Homo sapiens: one gene and its partners. The protein of the gene in region 3 interacts with the protein of the main gene of each other region in a biochemical or structural test. Each region holds a gene or a part of one and is shown on either strand. Other genes may lie near its edges.

Region 1 (3,224 bases), on a different chromosome or scaffold from region 3:
TAGCAAATTAAAAATTACAGAAAAATTATATTGGAAATAGATTTAGAGATCATCTAGACCATATGTAATCTTACAGGTAAGGATTTGACTTAAGGAGTTACAATTTTCTTTCGATTGATGCAATGGAGCCCCAAATTCATCTCTCAGAGAGATAACTGAAACTACAGCCATCATTACTAAATTATACCAGTGTTCCTGTAAATCTGAAACTGAAAGGCAGTTAAAAATCCATTCCTCGAGCCTCCAAAGAGCACAGTCCAATAGAAATCTGTTCAATGGGGCAATGGAACTTTCTTCTGCAATAATCTGTACCTGCACTGTTCAATACAGTAGCCACTAGCCATTTGTGCATATTTTATACCTGAAATGTGGCTAATGACACTGAGAAACTGGATTTTTAATTTTACCTAATTTTAATTAATTTACACTTCTAAATAGGCACATGGCTACAGCAGGGTTTCTCAACCTGGGCACTACAGTATTAACAGTTTGGACTGGAAAGTTCTTTGCGGTGGGGCTGTCCTGTACATTGTAAGAGGCTTTGCAGCATTCCAGACCTCTACCCACTACATGCCTGTAGCACCCCTCCTCAGTTGTCACAAACAAAATGTCTCCAGTTATTGTTAAACATCACTGGGTAACAAAATTAACCCCAGTGGAGAACCACTGAACTAGTTGCTACTGTATTAAGCAGCAAGGTTCTAGAATATGCTTAATATGTATAGTGTTTTGGTTGAAAAAAAGAACTGGCGCCCACACTATGCTAGGACAGTAGTGGTTTTGTTGTAACAACAGGGAAGCTTAAAACAAATTAGACAAGCCAAGAAATATGTTTCTTTATTTTCATTCCCATATAGCAGAGATGGAACCAGGACAGTGATGCTGGAAAAGCCTGCCTCGATCAAGTCATCACATAAGTTAATGTCAGAAAACCTGTATTTGAATTTGACTCCTCTATCCTTACTCTGGAAAATTGGACATCTTGACCCAGTGGCTGTGAGGGCTAAATTAGATGATGCAGAAAGTGCTTGGCATGCAGTAGATATGCAAAACAATAACTTATGACACTCTCCATGCAGGGAAAAAAGTCTTCATGCCTTCTAACTAATAATACAAACGTATGCAGTGTCTTTCAACCCTGGCTTGAGTTTAACAAATACAAATTGAATAGAAAAAATTAGTCAAACTCCATAAACAAGTTTATAACAAATACAAATCTAATCGAAAAAACTAGTCAAACTCTATAAATCCAACTTGATTTTAAAATTCTAGTGGCTACAACACTCAATAATGTTTTCACATCGTTTGTGAATCCATTCCCTAGATGCATTTAAAGATGTAGGAGAAACTGTTTCAGATCCTCTGGGAGGACGAGTTTGGTTATCTTATGATGCTGCTGGATTCCAAAACACTTCCGAATTCTAAGGCGGCATAACTGCATCAAAGAAGGGGGCCCTGGAGAAAGATCATAAGACAAGTCATACAATGGTGCTATTGATCTAAGACTCCTTTTTTTTAAAAAAAAAAAGCATCCAAGATAGAACATTGTTATAAGGAAATAATATTGAACTATTTAAGACCATTTTCTGGGGTTTTTTTGTAGAAGGCATTTTTAGGCTATGTTCTCTCTTTTCCGGTAGCTAATTGAAATAAGCTTGTTAGGTTTTTAATTTAGAACAGAGTGAAAGAAATTTAAAGCTTAGCCTCACTAATGGAGGCTTAAATAAGCTAACTTGGGAATTACACAGCTATACAAAAATTCCAATAATACAAATAAAATTTATGTTTAATGGTGTTCTTTTATCTTTAAAAATAAGGGCATATTTCTAGATGCAAACATTTTTATTTTATAACTTGAGCAAATTAAGGTACTCAAAAATAATGAGCTCACAGTGAATCCTAAGAGTATGTGAAGTCGTGTTTGTTTTTACATCCTGTATTCAGAGCTATTCCAATGCTTCAATTCATAAGTGAAAAGTGAACTAGCTAGCACAAACCTTGCTTAGGGAACACCCAACAGTTTACATTTTAGGACAGTGGTTCACAACTGGGAGGAGGCTCAGGGAAGGAAAGGAGGAGGAGATCATTTTGCTCCTCAGGGGACATTTGGCAGTGTCTGGAGACATTTTTGGTTGCCAAAACTTGAGGAAGGGTGCTACTGGCATCTAATGGGAGAGGCCAAGGATGCTTCTAAAAATCCCAGAGTACACAGGACAGCCCCCAACTGATTCAAAATGTCAATAGCGTCAAGGTTGAGAAACTCTGTTATAGGGCAAAAGGATGGGGAATGATTTTCCCTGCCCCCCTACCCCTGTTCCTGCATCAAATTGTAATGGGAATCTTCTTTTGGTTATTTTTTAAAAAGCAAAACTATATACCCTCAAGAACTCCATAAAGCCGTAGCCCTCAATCCAGGTAGCACTTCAGACTCACCTGGGGTGGGGGTACATTCAACTACATGGACGCTGAGTCCCCCCAACCAGGGATGTTGCTTCAGTTATTGTTGGGTGAAGCCCAAGCATCTGGATTTTCTAAAGGCATGTGCCCGAGGTCATCTGAGTGTGCGGTCAGGGTTGTGAATACATCCAAAAGGATACTGTGGTCTCTATTTTCCTATAGCAATACCACCAACTACAGGATCAACCGAGTTAACTTATCTCTCAAGGTGATGCAGAACAAGGAGAGATGGAACTCGACACATATACAATCAAAAAAATACTTGCAGTATTTTAAACCAGGCCCTAACAGAAGGGCCCTGTTGGAGTAAGGCACCTATGAGATGATGCCCAGTATACTCAAAGCATTTAAAAATGAACGGCTTCCCAGTGTTCTCAAGGCACATATTAACGAGCAGCAAAAAGCACACTGTGGGGAAACTGAACCTAATCTAACCTCACTAAGGAATGTTGAAACATGTGACTGATCATCTGTGCTAGAAACGCTGTCAGAGGCAACCGTAGGAGGTACTGATAAAGCATTACAAATAACAAGATCTCAGAGCAGGCCTGATAGAGAATTAAGAAAAGTGGGATGTCACAGGAAACTCAGTGTATTAATAACTACTGATGCCAACTGAATGCTGCTGTTTACTACAAGTAAGACAATGTAAAACAACTGTAGCTTCAAGTCCATAGACACAGAGCTGAAAACCCACTACAGATTTGCAGTCACTTGCTGGCACCTGCAAATATTCAAGGGGTTTGCTTTGCTCGGTAATAAAACCA
Region 2 (7,627 bases), on a different chromosome or scaffold from region 3:
GCTTTATGCTGAATGATGCTTTACAGGGAGATACAGAACTCAACAAGATTACAAGAAGTAAGAAGTAATTATACTTCAGAATTAGCATGAGCTTCTTATCCATGGAAGGCACTGTGTGTTGGGTTATATAATTGTGTATGACAGTGGTTCTTACACTTTTTGATCTTAGGACCCCTTTACACTCTTAAAAATTGTTGAGCACCTGAAGAGCCTTCGTGTAGCTTATATCTGTTGATGATGTTTATTAGAAATTAAAACTGAGAAAAACTTAAAATATGTATTTATTAATATGCTTACAAATAATAATAGACCCACACCCATAACATAAATTGACAGTTTATGTAAAATGTTTTTCAAAACAAAAATTTAGTGGGAAGAATGGCATTATTTTGCCTTTTTGTAACTCTTTGTTCAGCTTTATAGAAGACAGCTGGATTCTTACATTGCTTCTGCATTCAGTCTCTTGAGATGTCACATCATGCAGCCTCAGGAACACCCCACTGCATGCTTGTGAGAGAATGACTGTAAACAAAAGTAACATCTTAAATATTATGTATGAAAATTGTTTTGACCTTCTGGATCCCCTGAATGGGTCCTGGAAACTTTCAGGGGTCCAGGACCACACTTTGAGAACCCACTTGTGTAAGCTATAGTTAACAGTTAAGGATACCTGCTCATATCAAAATAACTTTAAAAAATTAGAGAAATCCTTAAGGCTACCAACGTTTATGTTTCTGTAGAGACCTGAGGTTTTTGAAATGTATTAGCTGGGAAATAGAGCATGGGCTCTAGTAGTCCTTTGCTGCCAAAAAAGTTAACAGTCTAATCTAGCTGGGGGAGAGACAGGAAGCTAACTAGTTAGAAGATACATCCATGTGGTTTAAGGTAAATGTTGAAAATAGCTATCTCCTAATAACGTAAAGGCTGATTTATGTCTAATTGTTGCTTAAGGGATTCTAGTTTAAAATGAAAAAGTTTTAAATAAAAGGGCATTCTCTCAAGCTTTTTGTTATGTGCACATACCAGATGTTATTTTCAGAAGTTGGAGGCTTGGGCATTCCTTATTTTTGTGGGTAAAAGAGTTTAACCAGTGGGAAAAAACAAAAATTGTTTAAAAAGATGCCCTGAATGCAAGTGTTTTGATAACTAAGGAAAGCCAAGGACCAAGCATTTGAACTTGAGGGTTTGGGTTAAACAGCCAGTTAAATTAGAGATATTTAGTAGGATAGGCATGCTAATTTTTCCCTGATTAATTCTTCAATGAGTTGAGAGTGCCTCTTTAAGTTTTCAGTACACACTTGCCTTCATATTACTCTACCCAAGAAAAGTAAGTGTAGATCAAGTAAATGTTCTGCAATTTTGCACCAAAAACTGCAGATAATTCCACCCAAAATACTGGAGATAAACCCTTTTTTAAGAGATCCATTCAGTAGGATGAGGTGTTGATTATTGGTTGTCAGTGGTAATAAATTTGTAATGGACTGATCAGGTTGTGATAAAGAGAAGAAATCAACCTTGATGGAGTGATGGGTTATTTTGTATCGTATTTCTCCACAACCTACATTTAACACTCGTTTGCCCAGTGGACTAAATTTTCTAAATACAATCAGTCATTTCCTTGTCATTAGGTCAAATGCTTTTACTGCTTTTTAGTAACATTCTATGATGTCTTTATTAAGTGCCTAATACTTAATAGAGCAATTAGTAAATATTTGCCTGATAAATAAAGGAACTATCACTTAGATGTGTCTGGCAGGGTCTTTATGTTGAAAATAAACGCAGAGTGAACTTTCCCCAGAATGCTTTCACTAGCCCGCACTCCCAGTATTTTAGTCAGTAAACGTTGGCTGGATTGTGAGCAAATGACCATCTGCAGTGTTGTTATCACAATGAATTTGTGTTCTTTTGGCAGTCTGTATTTATAGATGGGCAGGTGGACAATTTAGTTGTAAATGTGGATGGGGTAGTTAAAAATCAGTGGACAGGTGATACTTTTTTCACATTAATTCTAAAAAGTAGTATTTGAGTTTTATATATCCTTCTGAAGAATTTAAACTTTTTTGGTAATATTTATAAAGCTTAAGTCAAATGTCTTTCTAGTCTTTCTGCAGTATTCCTCCCCAACCCCGTCCCCCAGAATCTTAGAGCAATCTCAGCTTATTTCTAGAGTCTCTAAATGATTGCTCATGGATGTGAAATGTGTGAAATTTAGAATGTGCTCCATGTATGTGTTTTGTTTAAAGAAGCTTCAGTATAGAGATTGAGCCTAACATTTACTTGTTGTGAAGAAGTTTTGACACATTGATGAGAAGTTCTTTCCCTAATAATATGCTTAATAGTGTATACAGAACATCCTTCATGGTCTAAGCAGAAGAAATGATGGAGTTGGGGGAAGAATTCGAACTCTTTGGTGTGGTTTCCTGTTATTTATCCTCAAAATAATTTATTCTCATTCTTTGCTTGTACACCATTAGCCTTAGGCTCGTGTAACAGCCTCCTTTTTCCTCATTGAAATGTATGTAATTTCCTTCTCCACTGGAATATAAAAGATTGATTTTGGATCCTTCAAGCTAGATTTAGAAATACTTATGTTTTTATAGTGTTTGCAGCTCAGTGAGTAGACCAGTGAGTAATTTAGTGTGTAGCTCAGTGAGTCATTTAAATTCCTGTTTTAAAATTTGAGTCCCTCTTCCATCAGGAGCTGATTAACATGTACATTTCCCCTAACCTAACCTGCTCGTTTTTTTTCTTTTTGAGCTTTTCTCCCCTTCTTGAGCTTGTTTGTTTGTTTTTAATATTTTTCCTTCTTTGAAAACAAAATGTTAGTCTCCTTTGATTAAGCTGCAGTCTCTGACCTACATACATACAGGTTTGTGTTCAACCAAGGCATTGAAATAAATAGATTTAGTCGGTAGATTATCATTGTTTGAAGTGGAAAAGGTATGCTGTTTAACATATTTTGATATTTTATGTTTATTCATTGCCTCTTTAGACAGGAGAGCAATTGCATTCTAGGTGTGTTAATAGAGCTTTCCTGGACAGATGGCTTGGAAGGAAGTACTTTGATGGGTTCTCAGTAGGGGCTAGTACTTTTTGGAGGGTGTGTTTGTGATTAAGCTTACCTTGATTGACAGTTTAGAATGCTGAGAATAGCATTAACAACAGTAACAGCTTGTTCATCTTACCTAGAATTGTCTTGTGCCAAGACCCCTCAAGATGCTCTGAGATTTCTGTGTAGTGGTTTCTTTTGAGAATGTAGGTAAGAATAGGTGTCCTTGAGACTGAAAAGAAATTCACCTAAAATTGTTCATTGTGGTTGTATCTTAAAATCTTTGGGGTCGTTGAATGAACTTTGGCTTAGAAATTTGTAGAGATCGTCTTTTTAACTGCTGTGAGTCTGCAGATGTGATTATCTATAGTAATTCCAGATGTTTTCTCATCTATTAGTTTTACTGAGTAGGAAGATAACTGAGAACAACATAAAGTAACTTCAAAGCAGTTTGCTAGCATTTAATCCTGACTAATTTAATTAATTATTCATCCTTGTAGTTTTTCCTATTTTATTGATTATGAAACTGAGACAAAGGTTACGAGTTGCCCAAGATGCTTGGGGAGTATTAAAGATAGCCCAAAGCTTAAACTCTAACACTGTTCAGACTTTTAGCTTGCTTTTTCTTAAAAAAAAAAAAAAAAGAGTCTTTATTTTGTTATTCAGTAACTTAATGCTTGACAATTTAAAAAATACAAAATGTTTGGAACACATACTTTAAATAATTCCTTTGAAGATTTTTGATATGAAAATATATTTTAAGTTCCACATCTCAAAAATTACTTATTTTAAAATTTGGTCTTTTGTTACCCCCCTCACCCAATTTAATATTGAAAGTGCTGGCAAGTTGGAACAAGGAATTGGTGATATAGTTTGGAAGAAACAACTATTTTAAATGTCAACCTTGTTATACTCAGATCTAATATTTTTATAGGCCGAAATTCATATTGCATTAGTTCAGACATAATAAACCAGCCTCCTCACTATAGCTATGGATAAAATGCAATTAGCTTTTGGTTATTTTTAAAATGGGTTTCAGTTATTGAAGTCTCTCCACCCCCCTTATTTTTTCATTTTGTTTCTGTTAGAGAAGATTCTTCTTGGAGGTGGTTTGTTGTAGGGTGGAGGAAGGAGAGAATTCTTAAGGTATAGAATTTTGCATTTGCTTCTGGTAGCTCAGAGATTATTTGAAATCTTTGCTTTTAGTCAGTATACTTTGTTGATTCCATTTAGTTATTCTAAGATTTTCCAATTGTATTTCCTGTAAAAGTTATAGTCTTTAGACCATAAAAACTAAAACTAGTAACTGCAGATCTTTTTTTTTTTTTTTTTTTTTGAGATGGAGTCTCACCCTGTTCCCCAGGCTGGAGTGTGATGGCACGATCTTGTCTCACTGCAACCTCCGCCTCTCGGGCTCAAGTAATTCTTTGCCTCAGCCTCCTGAGTGGCTGGGATTACAGACGCACACCACCATACCCGGCTAATTTTTTGTATCTTTAGTAGAGTCAGGGTTTCACTCAAATTCCTGACCTCGTGATCCTCCTGCCTTGGCCTCCCAAAGTGCTGGGATTACATGTGTGAGCCTCCGTGCCTAGCCAGTAACTGCAGATCTTAAAACAGATTTCCCCTCTTCTTCTTCTTCCTCTTCTTCCTCTTCTTCTTCCTCCTCTTCTTCTTCTTCCTCTTCTTCCTCTTCCTCCTCTTCCTCCTCTTCCTCTTCTTCTTCTTTCTTCTTTCTTCTTTCTTTTTCTTCTTTCTTCCTTCTTCTTCTTTCTTCTTTCTTTTTCTTTCTTCTTTCTTCCTTCTTTTTCTTTCTTCTTTCTTCTTCTTCGGAATCTCACTCTTTGGCCAGGCTGGAGTGCAGTGGCACGATCTCAGCTCACCGAAACCTCCACTCCCAGGTTCAAGTGATTCTCCTGCTTCAGCCTCCCAAGTAGTTGGAATTACAGGCAGCCACCACCATGCCTGGCTAATTTTTGTGTTTTTAGTAGAGACGGGGTTTCACTGTGTTGGCCAGGCTGGTCTTGAACTCCTGACCTTGTGATCCACCTGCCTCGGCCTCCCAAAATACTGGGATTACAGGTGTGAGCCACTGCACCAGGCCTCCCCCTTTCTTAAGATACAAGGAAGTGTATCTTTTCAGTGTGTGCTCTTTATGGATGTATACAATGCAGATGAATTTAGGAAGGCAATTTCAGATTTTGAAAACTGTTGAAATTAAACTTGAACATTGAAAAATCAAATTTGCAGTTGTCTTAAGTGTTTGCATTAGTTAGATGCTTCACAATTAATAAATACTAGCTAATATAATTTTATAAGACCCTTTGAAGAGGGAATTGTGAGTTTATTTTTAAGATAAGCCAGGTTATATCAAAGATATTGTAACCAACTAGATTTTATTTGGAGACTTTGTACTCTGCTTTAGAATCCAGTAGCTCTATCAGTGTGAGCTGTTTCCATTCTTGAGTAGAAGTTTTCTCCTGTTATTTTTTCTTTGTTCTAGCTGGGTTTAAGACAGCCTTCTTTGTAGAAATTGTTGGCCTGTTTATCCTTCACCCACCCTGAAGACACTTAATTTTATGGACTGTTCTTGTACTGCCTCATCACCAGAAAAAGCAGGCTGGAAATTAACTGTCATATTCCCGCAGGTTTAATTTAACTGATTATAAGAAAGTACAGTTATTGTTCTACCTTCTTTAAATCTTTGTCCTTGATGACCAAGCTCAGGTTTTTATTTTTGCTTATTTATTTATTTTTTGGAAATGGAGTCTCACTCTGTCACCCAGTCTGGAGTGCAGTGGTGCAGTCATAGCTCGTTACAGCCTGGAACTCGCGGGCTTAAGTGATCCTTCCACTTCAGCCTCCCAAGTAGCTGGGACTCCAGGCATGTGCCACCACGCTCAGCTAATTTTTAAATTTTTTTGTAGAGATAGGGTCTCGATGTTACCCAGGTCTTGAACTTCTGACTCTGAGTGATCTTTCCACCTCAGCCTCCCAAAGTGCTGGGATTACAGATATGAGCCACCAGTCTGGGTGGGTTTTCTTTTTTAAATAATAGATTTAAATTGTTCATTACTTTGTTTTGAACATTTGTTGCACAATGCCGGAGTAATATTTTGATTAAAGTTTTTGAATATCAAGTTGAAATTTCTAGAAAACAAATTTCTGACTTGGAATGTTTCCCTGAGATAATCGATGGATGACATGTTAGAAAAATGTTCTACTATATTAGGCATTTAAAAAATAACTGTATAATATAGAGACTGTGGGAGCAACAATGGTACAAATTGCTGGTTGAGCAAATTTTAATTTTAGTTGCACACAGTAAAATGTTCTTTGGTTTCATTAAGATTAACTCTTATTTCCATGTGAATTATTTTGGATATTAATAGTGAGATGCTTTAGCATTGGAGAAATTGCTTTATAAAAACTGAAGGATCAGACTTCACCTTAAGTGTATGAAGTAGCTGCCAGACCTCAACATTCGTGCCATGAGAATTTAATTCTGAGAGCTTAAATGCGTTAGTTTCATTTTATTTGCTTTGAATGTTTTGTTTATATATAGTTTTTTTTAGAGCCTCATTTAAAAAATATATGTATTTCTAGTTTTTTTCTTCGAATATATAATACAGATTTTTGGGAAAATGTGGGTCATGTTTGAAAATTCTATCGATTGTAAAAAAAAATTCCGACTCTTGGTTTTGGTTAAATAATTAGAACAGCTATTTAGAAAAACTGAAATAGTTAATGGTTTTGGAGTTTGCAGGTGCCTGTTTTCTGAAATATTGATTATCTATCCCTCGGGCAGAGTATACGTATTTGCCAAGTTTGTATTTCTTTTTTCTATTTCTTCAAAATAAGTCCCGTTGATTTTAAAAGAATAAAGAGTTTCCCAGTAAGTACAAGTGTGGTACTTTTTCCCCCTCCACTTTGTACTTTAGTGTTAACCTTTATTACATAACCACAGAGAATGAGGAAGAGAATTGTACAATGCAGATATTAAGCCTATTGTTCTCCAAGGAAAGTCTTTGATGTTAAGAGGTCCCTAAACCTCTTAATTATTTTATTTACTTGTGAGAGGGGGTGCTTCCTTAAATATATACGAGTCTTTTCTTATATTGCATACACTTGCAACTATTATTTTGAAATAATAGTTGAGTGGTGTTTACATTTATGACCTGATTCATGTCTTTTGAAGTGCCACCACTGTTTCACCATGGACTTGCTTACTCAGGTTGTTGGCAACAGCATGGAATTGCATCAGATCTTGCTGTATTAAATAAATGAAGATATTAGATGTCAGAATTTTTAAGTAGTTCATGGCTTTTGTTTTTATTTTCTATATGATCAGCTTCATAGGGAAAGTTATTTTTGAAACAATTTGAGCTCCTAATAATTTTTTGAAGCTATTTGTGTCTGGTCTTCCAAAGGCAAAAATGGCCCATTTTGACTCTGATTTAGTAATCTCCTTTGGCTTTAGTGGTTTTTATCCTTCCTCCCACTATCCTTTCCCCTCGTTTAGAGGTAGGAGGAGCCCAGTTCCAGTATTTAAAATGAAGATCAAGAGTGGCATAATAG
Region 3 (7,812 bases):
GAGTCCAGAACTCGAGCCCATACATTTCTGTTCATTGTAAATGTCCCCATCTCAGTCCTGCTGTTGAAGCATCACAAGGTGCACCAAGACACGTGCTTCCCTGAGTTTGGAAGTTTTCCCAGCCCTGTTCATGGCCTCGTGTGTGAATTCTAGCATCCATTCTCCCAGGCATCCATTCACCAGACATCCTCAGCCCCTACTGTGGCCTGGCCCTCTAGGGTCTGCCTTGTTCCCTGCCTGCAGTCAGTGGGGAGCCCACTGGACCTGCACTGTCCATGTCGGGGGGGGTGACATGGCCAAGGGACTACTGAGTACTTGAAATGGGGCTCTGATTAGAGACCTGGGCACCTGAAAAATACACCACTCATTTCTTTTTTTTTTTTTGAGATGGAGTTTCGCTCTTGTTGCCCAGGCTGGAATGCAAGGATGCAATCTTGGCTCACTACAACCTCTGCCTCATGGGATCAAGCGGTTCTCCTGCCTCAGCCTCCCGAGTAGCTGGGATTACAGGTGACTGCCACCATGCCTGGCTAATTTTTTTTTTTTTTGTATTTTTAGTAGAGATGGGATTTCACCATGTTGCCCAGGCCGGTTTTGAATATCTAACTTCAGGTGATCTGCCCGCCTTGGCCTCCCAAAGTGCTGGGATTAGAGGTGCGAGCCACCCACTGTACGTGACCCACGCAGCTCATTTCAAAGACTCGGTGTGACAAGAAAAAGAAACTTCATTATCTTGTCAAGAATTTTATGTTAATTAATGTTGAAGTAATATGTTAGCCACATTGGATTAATTAAATATTAAAATTAGGCCGGCGCTGTGGCTCACACCTGTAATCCCAACACTTTGGGAGGCCGAGGCAGGTGGATCACCTGAGGTCAGAAGTTCGAGACCAGCCTGGTGAATATGGTGAAACCCCATCTGTACTAAAAATACAAAAAAAAAATCAGCTGGGCGTGGTGGTGGGCACCTGTAATCGCAGCTACTTGCGAGTCTGAGGCGACAGCATCGCTTGAACCCAGGAGGCAGAGGTTGCTGTGAGCCGAGATCGCGTCATTGCACTCCAGCCTGAGCAACAAGAGTGAAACTCTGTCTCAAAAAAAAAAAAGAAAAAAGAAAAGAAAAGAAAAACGGAAACACAAGGCCTTTTGTGCAGAGGCAAACCCCCTCCACGATCCGATCCCAGGACGGTCCAGCAGGAAGGTCAGGGCCACGGACTTGGAAAGTGTGGGAGAGAAGGACACACTGGATAGCCCGCCGCCGGGCACTTCACTTATCAGTGCGTGGTTTGCTTTCCCAGCTGGCTTAGCTCCTGCCTGCAAAGTGATTGGAGTCCGGGTGGTACCTGGCCTCGAAAGATCTTTGCGTCCAAAGGGGGCCTTGAGGGACCCTTTGTTTTCACTTCGTAGCACAGCCAGACGGTATTCCGACGAGAAAGGATGGGTCTATTATAAAAGTTGTAGGAGAATGTGTCTCGATACATTCGCTCCACTGTGTTTCTGAAGACACAAGAGAGAAACCAGCCAATGTAGAGAGCACTCCTGGGGGCCCTCCGGGCTGATGTCCACTAAACACAGCCCCCTGGACGGCTCTAGGCCTCCCCCATCCCTCCCCTCCCCTGAGAATTTCGGCGGAGACTGTAGTGAGCCAAGATCGCGCCACTACACTCCAGCCTGGGCGACAAGAGCGAAATTCCGTCTCAAAAAAAAAGAGAGAGAGAGACAGAATAAAACTCTTCACCCCAAAATAACAGCTTTTAACCTTTCAGCTCAGTTCCTTCCTGACATTTCACCTCTGTATATTATTATTGTTAAATCATGGTAGAACCGAATTCTGAGGCCCAGGCCAGTCTTCTAAGTGCTGCGCGGGGGTGAGCTCATGTGAGGCTGCCCTAGGCTGGCAGGGGCCATTCCCGTCTTACAGAGGAGGGGCCAGACGCGCAGAGAGGCGGGGTAACCTGCCCAGGCCACAGAGCTGGGGACAAATGGAGTGGGGGCCCCTTTCCAGGCCAGCCCTGTCCAGTCTCTGTATCACTGGCCCTGCAGGAGGCAGCCATTGGGGACCGGGCTCTCTTCTTACTAAATTTTAAAATAACAACATTCCTCCTGATCATTGAGTTTTTTTCCCATATATTCCATGTTTTTTCTTTTGTTTTTGTTTTTTTTTCTTTCAAGACGAAGTTTTGCTCTTGTTGCCCAGGCTGGAGTGCAATGGGGCGACCTCAGCTCACTGCAAACTCCGCCTCCTGGGTTCAATGGATTCTCCTGTCTCAGACTCCCAAGTAGCTGCGATTACAGGCGCCCGCCACCACACCCAGCTAATTTTGCATTTTTAGTAGAGACAGGGTTTATCCATGCTGGTCAGGCTGGTCTTGAACTCCTGACCGCAGGCGATCCGCCCACCTCAGCCTCCCAAAGTGCTGGGATGACAGGTGTGAGCCACCGCACCCGGCCACTATATTCCATGTTACTGGTGTCATTTATAAACAGTGAATGCTGATAGTGGAGGAGGAGCGTGTGTTTGGGGTCATCTGCATCCTCCTCTGCCCACAGTGGAGACATCCTTGGAAGACATGATTTATCCTGTGCTTCAGAGACCATTCCCTCCCCACACCCTCTCCTAAGACTTGGTATTTAAGCAAAGTAAATCTTACAGAAAATCCATCAAAGCCCTGTGAACAAAATTCCACCTTGCTCTACTCATCCTTTGGTTCAATTCTCCCAGTTCCAGAGTTCAGGAATGGCGGGAAGCACACAGAGGGAGCACCCTCCCAGGGCCGGGAGCACCACCCCAGCCATGACTTTCAGGGGAGAGTCTCAGCAGGGGACCTGGGCTGGGACAGATGGGGGAGGCGGCCCATTCAGAAGCAGCAGTGGGGCGACAACACAGCAGGGCAAGGAGCCTGGCTGGGAGTAGGGGGTGCAGGGGAGTCAGAGGGGAGGGAGCCCAGGGCTGGGGCTGGGGCAGGGGAAGGCCAGGGCTGACGCCCAGCAGAGCCACCAGGCAAGAAGGGGCAGCAGAGGGGCCCAGTGGGTAGAGCGGGCAGCGGTACCTGAAGTGAGGCTTCATCCTTGGCCGGCTAGTCCCGACTAAGATCTTTGTCTGGAGCACCAGGGTTTCACTTTCTGCTCCAAGCTTCTGGTTTTAGGACAGCCCTCCCTAAAGTGACCTCCCAGGGCCTCGTAGTCATGGCCCCTCCCGCTTCCTGCTCAGGCGCTGGTGTAGGAGGCCCTGGGACGCTTTATCTTCCTCAGTCTCTCACCCTCTTTCTGGTTTTCTCTGGGGCCCTCCCCCTGGCAGAGGGACCTCTGATAAAGACAGGCCGCTCTGTGCGGCAGGACCCAAGGCAATTGCAAAGGGAAAGAGAAAGTCATTGCAGCCAGCGCCCGGGAGGTGGGTCCACACCAGGCTGAGCCAGCAGAGCACAAGCCCCTCCCCTGGTGGTCCCGCCCAGCTGGAGCCTCCTCTCCACCATCAAGACAGACAGGCTGATGCCTCCGCAGGGACTCCCGGATCCTGCCCTCGGGGATCATCCCAGAGACGGCCCCCACCCAGCGGCCATGGGGACAGGGAGGGAGAGTAAATGGCCAGGCGTCTGCCTCCCCCCAGGCCGTCACCCTCGGAGGCCACCGTGGGAGGGAGGGACAGCAGGTGGGTGTGGGCCTCAGATGTCCCACCGGGATGCCATGCGCGCCCCCACACTGAGCTCTTTCCTTCCTGCTTCTCCTTCTTCCCCATCTCCTGCCCGGAGATCCTCCGTGGTGGGCTGAACTTTTGCCCTCTCTTGTCCCCATGTTATGGAAGGGCAGCGGCTGGTGTCCCAGGCCAGCCTGTCTGGAGCCTCCCTGCGCGTCTCACAGCTCCCTTCCCCTGGTAGCGTGTTCCCATGGCGTGGTGACCTACAAATTACACAAGGGATGCATTTGCAAATGACACTTTATTTCTTGTTAAGGGTGACAGCCTGCAAGGTAGCCATCCAGCAGCCTGGGAAGAGCAGCCTCTGGTTAACACCAGAGACAGACATTTAGAAGCAGGAGGGGTTGGGGCAGGAGCTTTATGCTGAAGGGGTTAGCTAAACATACATATTGAACAGGCTACAGGAGGAGCTATGAATATTCATGTGGGTGGCTGCACTCCATGCTTATTGAACAAACATGCGTGTAACATATGATCCCAGGCGGGCACAGTGGCTCACACCTGTAATCCCAGCATTTTGGGAGGCCGAGGCAGGTGGATCATCTGAGGTCAGTGTCAGGCCGCTGAGCCAGAGCTAAGCCATTGTGACCCCTGTGAACTGCACATATACATCCAGATGGCCTGCAGCAGCCAAGAAGTCTGGAACAGCCAAAAAAACACAAAAGAAGTGAAACAGCCAGTTTCTCCCTTAACTGATTAACCAACCTTAAGACATTCCACCATTAGGACTTGTTCCTGCCCTACCCTAACTGATCAATCGACCTTATGACATTCTTCTTCTGGACAATGGGTCTCATGGTCTCCCACCATGCACCTTGTGACCCCCTCCCCTGCTGACAACAGATGACCGCCTTTGACTGTAACTTTCCACCGCCTACCCAAGTCCTATAAAGCTGCCCCTCTCCTATCTCCCTTCGCTGACTCTCTTTTCAGACTCAGCCCAGTTGCACCCAAGTGAATAAATGGCATTATTGCTTACACAAAGCCTGTTTAGGTGGTCTTCTATATGGACATGTATGACAGTCAGGAGTTCGAGACCAACCTGGCCAACATGGTGAGACCTCGTCTCTACTAAAACTACCAAAGTTGGCCGGACGTGGTGCCATGTGCCTGAAATCCCAGCTACTTGGGAGGCTGAGGCAGGAGAATCAGTTGAACCCGGGAGGCAGAGGTTGCACTGGGCCGAGATCGCACCACTGCCCTCCAGCCTGGGAGACAGAGTGAGACTCCATCTCAAAACAAAAAACAAACAAACAACAATCTATTAAAAAAAAAAAAAAAAAAAAGCAGCTGTATTATCCGTCCTCACATTGCGGTGGAGACAACATTTAAATGTACCACAATTAAGCCTGTATGTCAAAAGGTCCTTTCAGGACATGAAGGCACCAAAATTTGCCAGGTCTGTAAACCATTCAGAACTAGTCCATGGTCTGTGGTCTTCTGATCTGGAGAAAGTTACAGAAATCAGTCTCTTGCTCAGGGAAAGTAGGAATTAGGGCTGTGGAGCAGGGGCTCTGTTACTCCGTGTCCGGGCGCTGGGTGAGGTGGGATTGTTTTCATCTTTATCTGGAGGCAGTGCTTGTTTAGCTGCTAGAGCAAAAGAAAAATCTTGTGGCAGGCAGAACAGAGTTGACTGTTTAAGTGTGGGGTGTGTGATCTCACCCTTGCCTGGCACGGCCTGAGGTCCTGGTTGTGATTTGGTATCTGATTGCCATGAAGAGTCTGTTCTGGTTCTGCCCGTCTTATGATTCTGTTTTAACATTACTGCTGGTCAGTTGTGTCTAAACTGCAAAAGGGTGGGGTGATAATGAGGCGTGCCTGACCTCCCCTCCCATCATGGCTGGGAACTCAGTTTTAAGGTTTTTCTGAGATACCCCTGGCCACTGGGGGCCAAAGTTGGGGGGGATCGGTGGGGGCTAAAGACTTTATTTTTAGTTCATAGGCCTTTGGACTAAGCTCTGATTTGTTTTATTTAATCTTGCCCAAAATCCTATCTAAGGGGTCTGGGGAGTCATGCCTTACAACCCATACATCCTCATCAGAGGGGTTCTATTTTTTATTTTTTTATCTTATTGTATTTTAATGGAGGCCGAGTTTCACTCTTCTTGCCCGGACTGGACTGCAATGGTGCGGTCTCGGCTCACTGCAACCTCCGCCTCTCGGGTTCAAGCGATTCTCCTGTCTCAGCCTCCCAAGTAGCTGGGATTATAGGTCCCCGCCACCATGCCTGGCTAATTTTTGTATTTTTAGTAGAGATGGGGTTTCACCATGTTGGCCAGGCTGGTCTCGAACTCCCGACTGCAGATGATCCACCCGCCTCGGCCTCCCAAAGTGCTGGGATTACAGACATGAGCCACTGCGCCTGGCACAAATGGGTTTTATTTAACCCTATATATTGTGAGTTACTTTCCAATCTGACTCAGACACAACATTATGTGACAAAGAAGAAAGATAAAATATTTTACCCCAAAACATGTTTCTTTGCCATATCTGAAATGGCCCTGCAAAGTTGTCCCCGGTGGGGGAAAATTTGCATCTGTAAAGAACCTCTATTAACATAGCTGGATCTTTTTCTTCTAGGCCTTCCCAGTCCTAAACAGATTAACTAATTGGACCTTTTAAAGACCTGAATAGCAAACATTTGTCATCTATTATCTCTAAAGGCAGCCATTATGAGACTTCAAAATAACCTTGGTCTCCACAGTCTTTTATCTTAACTTGAACATTTCCTTTCTATGGATGCCAGGTCTCTAGACAAACTCAACCCATCCTCAACCAGAAAATGTTTAAATTTACCTGTAGCCTGGAAGCCCCCCAACCCCGCTTCCCTCACTTTGAGTCGTCTGACCTTTCAGGACTAAACCAATGTATTTCTTTTCTTTACTTTTTTTGTTTCTTTTTTTCTTTTTTCTTTTTCTTTTTCTTTTCTTTTCTTTTTTTTTTTTTTTTTGAGATTGTGTCTTGCTCTGTCGCCCAGGCTGGAGTGCAGTGGGGCAATCTTGGCTCACTGCAACCTCTGCCTCCCGGGTTCACGCGATTCTCCTGCCTCAGCCCCCTGACTAGCTGAGTTTACAGGTGCACACCACCACGCCCGGCTAACTTTTTGTGTATTTTTAGTAGAGACGCGGTTTCACTATGTTGGCCAGACTGGGCTCCATCTCCTGACCTCGTGATCCGCCCGCCTTGGCCTCCCAAAGTGCTGGGATTACAGGCATGAGACACCACGCCTGGCCTTTTCTTTTCTTTTTTTTTTTTTTTTTTTGGAACAGAGTCTTGCTCTGTCCCACAGGCTGGAGTGCAGTGGTGTGGTCTTGGCTCACTGCAACCTCTGCCTCCTGGGTTCATGCAATTCTTCTGCCTCAATCTCCCGAGTAGCTGGGATTACAGGTGCACACCACCACACCCGGGTAATTTTTTGTATTTTTAGTAGAGACGGGGTTTCACTATGTTGGCAAGGGTGGTCTTGAATTCCTGAACGCGTGATCCACCTGCCTCAGCCTCCCAAAGTGCTGGGATTACAGGTGTGAGCCACCGCGCCCAGCTCCTGTATTTCTTAAATGTATTTGATTGATGGCCCATGCCCCTCTAAAATGTATAAAACCAAGCTGCACCCCCACCACCTTGGGCACATGTTCTCAGGACCTCCTGAGGGCTGTGTCACAGGCCGTGGTCACTCGTATTTGGCTGAGAATACATCTCTTCAAATATTTTACTGAGTTTGACTCTTCGTTGACAGGCCCAAGATCCAGGTGCCCACTCCCTGTCTCCTCGGAGGGCCCGCGCTTCCGGTTCTCTGGCACCTCTGGTTCCTGGTTGCCCTTCTACTTTCTGTTCTGCTTTCTCAAAAAGCTCTGAACATCTCAAGCCTCCATGTAGTACCCAATTCTACTTTTCACTGAAAATCTTACTTAAACACCAACTTCATCACTGAGTGTTTTCTTGGCTCTTTCTCAGTCACGTTCCCTAGGCTGTGTCCTAGCCCAGAGCTGCACTGCTGGGAGGGATTTCAGAAGGGAGGGGCATGAGGAGGCAGGAGGGCTGGGTGCTGTTGGGTGTAGGAGGAATGAGGTGGGTGGAGCACGCAGGAAGGTCTGAGTGGAGGGGCTGTGAGGGTCAGG

What was found.
Region 1: of the proteins of APOBEC3G (region 3) and ASB9, one has a biochemical effect on the other in vitro, tested with the Homo sapiens proteins (one study listed by BioGRID).
Region 2: of the proteins of APOBEC3G (region 3) and USP3, one has a biochemical effect on the other in vitro, tested with the Homo sapiens proteins (one study listed by BioGRID).

The regions. Positions count from the first base shown.
Region 1 is NC_000023.11:15,243,176-15,246,399, forward strand, and holds the end of ASB9 (ankyrin repeat and SOCS box protein 9), read right to left. Parts: intron 1,456-3,224; coding exon 1,331-1,455; 3' UTR 812-1,330; downstream 1-811. UniProt on the Homo sapiens protein: Substrate-recognition component of a cullin-5-RING E3 ubiquitin-protein ligase complex (ECS complex, also named CRL5 complex), which mediates the ubiquitination and subsequent proteasomal degradation of target proteins.
Region 2 is NC_000015.10:63,507,590-63,515,216, forward strand, and holds part of USP3 (ubiquitin carboxyl-terminal hydrolase 3), read left to right. Parts: intron 1-4,386; exon of another isoform or gene 4,387-7,627. UniProt on the Homo sapiens protein: Deubiquitinase that plays a role in several cellular processes including transcriptional regulation, cell cycle progression or innate immunity.
Region 3 is NC_000022.11:39,072,617-39,080,428, reverse strand, and holds the start of APOBEC3G (DNA dC->dU-editing enzyme APOBEC-3G), read right to left. Parts: upstream 3,155-7,812; 5' UTR 3,068-3,154; coding exon 3,051-3,067; intron 1,498-3,050; coding exon 1,344-1,497; intron 1-1,343.